Homo sapiens: one gene and its partner. The protein of the gene in region 1 interacts with the protein of each later gene in a pairwise test. Each region holds a gene or a part of one and is shown in the gene's direction. Other genes may lie near its edges.

Region 1 (3,182 bases):
GGAGGGCCTGGTCTGACCTCAAGGCTCTTGGGGCACCCACACAGGATGGGCTGTGAGGGGTTGGCGGGGGTGGGGGGGGTGGTCTGTGATGGCCCCCTGCTGAGCCAGAGTGACCCCTACAACCGGTCCAGGGGTCCACGGACCAGAAGGCCAGGTTCTCCTGGAGGTCCCATCTCCCCTGGGCCTCGGTTTCCCCTTCTGTGACTCCACACCCCCAAGGAGGGCCCTGTCAGGGAGGGCGGGGGGCACTGGTTAATGTCCAGGACATGGCTGTCCCAGTCAAGCCAAACCCCTGGAATGTGCTGAACTGGCTACACTGAGCGGGGCTGGCCTCCGAGACAGAGGGGCCTGCCGAGGACACGGAGGCTCTGTGGAACCCAGGGAACTGGTCACACTGAGGACACGGAGGCTCTGTGGAACCCAGGGCCTGGCCACACTGAGCACGGCTGGTCCCCCAAGACAGAGGGACCTCCTGAGGACACAGAGTCTCTGTGGAACCCAGGGCCTGGCCACATGGAGGACACGGAGGCTCTGTGGAACCCAGGGCCTGGCCGTGGCAAGGAAGCCCCAAGCCAAGTGTGTGTCAGCCTTGTCCTCTCTGTGGGCCTCAGTTTCCCCTCTGTGCAACAAGGGGAGTGACCAGCTGGTTTCTGGAGTCTCCTCCTCTCCCTCTCTGTCCCCAGGGGTGGGCCTGGGCCTCATGTCTGCAGGGGGTGCTGACACCTGCTCCTGTGGTCCGGGCCTTGGGGAGGGAGCCAAGTGCAGAGAGAATGTCTTGCTTGTGCCTGCTCAGCCCAGAGGGACACATGGCGTCTGCACCTGCTTCCCGCTTGGGCACAATTGCCCTTTGAGAGCAGAGCCAGGGGCTTCTTGGGGACGGAAGCTGCTCTCAGAAGCCGCGCACTGGTGGTGGGGGAGCGGCAGGAAGGGGCCGGCCAGCTGTCCTAGCCAAGAGCCTTTCAGGAACCGGTGGCCCAGGGCAGAGGTGGCTGGAGGTGGAGCTGTCTGTTTGGGCCTCAGGTGTCGGGGCAAGGCCTGCTTGGGTTTTACACGAGTGTTGCGCCTTTACCCGGGTCTCTGTCAGTGGGTCCCGCCTGACCCGTGGGTGTGCATGGGTCCCCGTCGTAGGCAGGCGTTCTGCCCTGGCCAGGCGTGGTGTCCGGCATCCGGCCATCTCCCTCCTCCCTCCTTCCCTTAGCCCCGCATCCAGGTGCCCCGTGTGCCCGGCCTGGGCGGCTGGCCGTGGATCTGACCGCTCCTGCATGGTGGAGGACCAGCGTTCCCACTGTCTGCAGCTGTGCCACCTCCCTGTGCCGGGCTGTGCGTGCTCACGCTCGGCTCCGTCTGCCTTTGTGCGATCAGACTGAGAGACCCCCCAGGCAGGTCCCGCCTGCAACAAGCAGACCCCATGCGTGCCCCAAATGCCCCCTCACCCGGGCCCTGCCCTGGTGGGTGTTGCCTGGGAGCAAACTCCCAGAATGGCCGCCGGGCCCCACTCGGCTTTGGAGCTTCTGATTCCTGTGGGCGCTTCTCAGGTCAGGGCCCTGCAGGTGGGAAGCACCAGGCACTGGAATGAGGGCACTGTGGGGCCAGCTGCCTGCAGGCAGGGGTCTGATCACCAAGCACCTGTCCCCTGCAGGATCCCTGGCTGTGGCTCCCCCGATGACGTTCAGGAAGTGGGAGCCGATCCCCTGTCCCCAGAGAGCCCCGTGACTCCCCCGATGACGTTCAGGAAGTGGGAGCCGATCCCCTGTCCCCAGAGAGCCCCGTGACTCCCCCGATGACGTTCAGGAAGTGGGAGCCGATCCCCTGTCCCCAGAGAGCCCCGTGGCTCCCACAGGTCCCTGTGGGCTCACCTCTTTGTGTCTCTGCTGTGGCTTCCACGGTGCTGTGGCCTCTATTCTGGGGACACTGAGCTCCTCCTTGCTCGAGGTTTTGGGTCCTCATTGTCCACATGACCTCCTGCTGGGCGAATTCTGGGATGACCCTGTGTCCTGGGCACATGGCTGGCAGGGTCCCGGGGGCTCTCTGGCCAGCCTCCCCTGCACCCTGGCACCAACCAGCCTGGCCGAGGGTCAGCTCCCAGAGCCGTGTTGAGAGGGGAAGGGGCTGATTCCACAGACATTTGGGGTGGAGTGGGTGCGAGGGAGGGTGGGGGAGGGGCTGCTCCAGATCTGGGGTGAGGGAGTCAGAAACAGGGCTGACCCCAAGGTGGGTACAGGAAGAGGCCCAGGTGTGGGCAGGAGCTGTCTGCACCTCCTGAGCGCATTCCCCAGTCCAGACCGGGAGCGAGTGTGGGGCTCCCTGGGCCTGTCTTGCTGACCTGTGGCCCTGTACTGACCAGCAGAGCATGGGGGTCCCTCGTACCCCTTCACGGACAGTGCTCTTCGAGCGGGAGAGGACGGGCCTGACCTACCGCGTGCCCTCGCTGCTCCCCGTGCCCCCCGGGCCCACCCTGCTGGCCTTTGTGGAGCAGCGGCTCAGCCCTGACGACTCCCACGCCCACCGCCTGGTGCTGAGGAGGGGCACGCTGGCCGGGGGCTCCGTGCGGGTGAGTGAGTGGCCGGGGGCTCTGTGTGGGTGTAGTGGCCGGATCTGCTGGGGCTGCACACCCCGGGATGGGGCGGGGGTGGCGGCGGCAGGCAGATGCCCGAGGTAGAGATGAGCAAACCAGGCTCAGCGATCCTGGGTGCCCTGCGGGGGGCTGTGCCCAGGTCCCTGGACGTCCTGGTCAGCGGAACTTCCTCCTCTGGGCAGTGGGGTGCCCTGCACGTGCTGGGGACAGCAGCCCTGGCGGAGCACCGGTCCATGAACCCCTGCCCTGTGCACGATGCTGGCACGGGCACCGTCTTCCTCTTCTTCATCGCGGTGCTGGGCCACACGCCTGAGGCCGTGCAGATCGCCACGGGAAGGAACGCCGCGCGCCTCTGCTGTGTGGCCAGCCGTGACGCCGGCCTCTCGTGGGGCAGCGCCCGGGACCTCACCGAGGAGGCCATCGGTGGTGCCGTGCAGGGTAGGCGGGCAGGGTGCCGGTCTGGGTCCCTTTGATTGGCCACGGTCCACATGGAAGGGAGATTCCAGCGGGAAATTGCCATTCTGCCCCACCCCTGTCTCCAGCCACAAGGGAACCAACCATCCCTTTCCCCAGGACTGTTCTGCGCCTCCCGTCCCAGGCAAATCCC
Region 2 (3,286 bases), on another chromosome or scaffold:
ATAGTTTTGTGAATTTCAGCTACATTCAGTCCCCACCTGCCCTCCTAGAGGAGTTGCCTTAGTCTGAGCAAAGTCCATTCAACCCTATATGATGGCCCTGGGCTTTCCTCAGGCAGAATTGTAAAATTAGGAAACTTCTACTTCGGAGCTCATTTGTTCATACACTCTTCATCTTTTATTCACACCCCACTAGTTATCCACTCTCAACCTCAACCCTTGGCGTGGGGCATTTCATCAAGTTACTTATTGGTATTTGCCTTTACTCCAAACTGCTAATCTTTTCTAGGTGCTTAGCATTTCATGTTTGGCAACTCACAGTGGGTAGTAATAAGCCTTTTCATCATATTTAATCTTTCAGTCTGTGTAAACTGTGCTTCTCCTAAAGCAGAAGTCTAATAGGAGTTTTGTTCATTAACTTCCTGATGGCTTCTAGAAATGTCATCAAAGAAACATTTCATATTTATATCCTTTTTTGCTTAAATTTTCTTTTGGGTCAATTCAAATAATTTATTAATGTCTATATTAATATAAAATAGAAATTGTTAAATATTTCAGGAAAACTTTCTGAAATATAATTTCTCCGTACAATGAAACAGTTTTTTTCATATATCTATAAATAGATACAGGAGCCTCCAGTTATCTAATGAGGGTTACATATGGTGCATAATTTTAATACCATATTTGTTTCATCTTACTTCAAATTTGAAAGTACTTTTGCTATAAGTTTCCTAAAAGTATTTAATACTTTTTTTTTTCAATTTAGATTAAATCTCTTGATGAACAGTGTGTGGTTGGCAAAATTTCCAAGCACTGGACTGGAATTTTGAGAGAGGCATTTACAGACGCTGATAACTTTGGAATCCAGTTCCCTTTAGACCTTGATGTTAAAATGAAAGCTGTAATGATTGGTGCCTGTTTCCTCATTGTAAGTCTGTTCTTATTAATCTTGATTATAGATGCTTTCTCTAGGTTCATTCTGAAATGATTCAGTAAAGTGTATATTTCAAAATGACATTTTAAAATTTATAGATTTTAAATCAGGATTCCCATTTAATCCTAGCTCTGAAATTCTATTTGATCCTGACACTCTGGGGTCACAGGTGACTAGTTTCTACCTGAAGAGTCTATGAATATTCACATGGCAAGAGGGGGACTAAGGAGATGTACTAAGGAGAGATTTTAGTCTCCCCTTAAATCAGGCATCTCCTAGATGCTTTGAGGAAGAAGTTGAAAGTAGGCATATGTGGAAAAAATTTAGTGAAACAAGGAAACTTTACCATGACTCATAGTAATTAAATTAAACCATCTAATATAGGAGTATGAAGTACAATAAGAGTGTACATTCACTCAAGTGTGTAGACCTAACTACCAAATTACAGGAAATAATTGGATATACCAGTGATTCTGAAATTGCCTTCACATTAGAACCACCTAGGGACTTTAAAAACTCCAAGGACTAGTCCATACCTCAGTTCAACTAAATCAGAAACTTCGAAGTTCATATAGTGTTCCAGGTGATTCCAGTATGCAGCCAAAGATGAGAATTATGGGGATAGAGAAAAAGTAACATTTAGAGAAAATGACTGGAAGATTAATTAAATTCATACAGGTATCAATAAATGAATAGAATTATAGAATTTATTATTAAAATGGAAAGCCAAAGGCAGAACTTATATAATTATAGAGCTTTTGTATATTTACTTATTACATTTAATTTTTTTAACAGATTTGTTACTGTGTTTCACTAGATCCCTTAGTATTTCTGCATCTGATAATTGATCTCTGTTTTGTTGTTGAAAATTCATTTGTATACTTTTGTTTTTATCTAGGACTTCATGTTTTTTGAAAGCACTGGCAGCCAGGAACAAAAATCAGGAGTGTGGTAGTGGATTAGTGAAAGTCTCCTCAGGAAATCTGAAGTCTGTATATTGATTGAGACTATCTAAACTCATACCTGTATGAATTAAGCTGTAAGGCCTGTAGCTCTGGTTGTATACTTTTGCTTTTCAAATTATAGTTTATCTTCTGTATAACTGATTTATAAAGGTTTTTGTACATTTTTTAATACTCATTGTCAATTTGAGAAAAAGGACATATGAGTTTTTGCATTTATTAATGAAACTTCCTTTGAAAAACTGCTTTGAATTATGATCTCTGATTCATTGTCCATTTTACTACCAAATATTAACTAAGGCCTTATTAATTTTTATATAAATTATATCTTGTCCTATTAAATCTAGTTACAATTTATTTCATGCATAAGAGCTAATGTTATTTTGCAAATGCCATATATTCAAAAAAGCTCAAAGATAATTTTCTTTACTATTATGTTCAAATAATATTCAATATGCATATTATCTTTAAAAAGTTAAATGTTTTTTTAATCTTCAAGAAATCATGCTACACTTAACTTCTCCTAGAAGCTAATCTATACCATAATATTTTCATATTCACAAGATATTAAATTACCAATTTTCAAATTATTGTTAGTAAAGAACAAAATGATTCTCTCCCAAAGAAAGACACATTTTAAATACTCCTTCACTCTAAAACTCTGGTATTATAACTTTTGAAAGTTAATATTTCTACATGAAATGTTTAGCTCTTACACTCTATCCTTCCTAGAAAATGGTAATTGAGATTACTCAGATATTAATTAAATACAATATCATATATATATTCACAGAGTATAAACCTAAATAATGATCTATTAGATTCAAATATTTGAAATAAAAACTTGATTTTTTTGTATATTTGATTTTTGTTTTTAAACGAAATGTGTTCAGATGGTATTTTGAGCACTCATTCAGTTAAATGATGGTACATTTGAAGCAGGATATTTCCCTGACCCCTTCACAGGACTCGAGACAGGGGTGCCTTGTTTACTCAGCCTGCCATTCTCAACTCCTCCTGGGAGGGAGTGCACAGGCAAACAAGGCAGGAACTGGAGTGTACAAGCACTGGAACTGGCTGGCCGCTTTGGCATGGGCAGGAACAAACTGTGCAGGCCCTGTGGTAGCATCCAGGTGGGGTTGCCTGCGATTCCTGAAGCCCCAGAAGATGTGTTAACAGTGCTCTTTTAGCTCTGCTGTCTGTGGACGGCTTAAGTGTTAACAGCTCAGTGGGCCCTTTGCCTTGTCATGTGGGACAGCTGCCCTCCACCAGCAAGGGCAAATGGCGAATGTGAGAGCCTTTTATATCGGCACTCATGGCTCCCAGGCTCTTGTCCGGTGTCCAGGAAAAATGTGGTCACAAAAACAAACTGAAGGATGGTAAATGAGGGGGA

Evidence for each region.
Region 2: the proteins of NEU4 (region 1) and PLSCR1 interact in a two-hybrid assay, tested with the Homo sapiens proteins (one large-scale study listed by BioGRID and IntAct).

Annotation. Positions count from the first base shown.
Region 1 is NC_000002.12:241,812,135-241,815,316, forward strand, and holds part of NEU4 (sialidase-4), read left to right. Parts: intron 1-1,198; exon of another isoform or gene 1,199-1,379; intron 1,380-2,344; coding exon of another isoform or gene 2,345-2,350; coding exon 2,351-2,551; intron 2,552-2,757; coding exon 2,758-3,013; intron 3,014-3,182. UniProt on the Homo sapiens protein: Exo-alpha-sialidase that catalyzes the hydrolytic cleavage of the terminal sialic acid (N-acetylneuraminic acid, Neu5Ac) of a glycan moiety in the catabolism of glycolipids, glycoproteins and oligosacharides.
Region 2 is NC_000003.12:146,514,645-146,517,930, reverse strand, and holds the end of PLSCR1 (phospholipid scramblase 1), read left to right. Parts: intron 1-763; coding exon 764-925; intron 926-1,829; coding exon 1,830-1,886; 3' UTR 1,887-2,751; downstream 2,752-3,286. UniProt on the Homo sapiens protein: Catalyzes calcium-induced ATP-independent rapid bidirectional and non-specific movement of phospholipids (lipid scrambling or lipid flip-flop) between the inner and outer leaflet of the plasma membrane resulting in collapse of the phospholipid asymmetry which leads to phosphatidylserine externalization on the cell surface.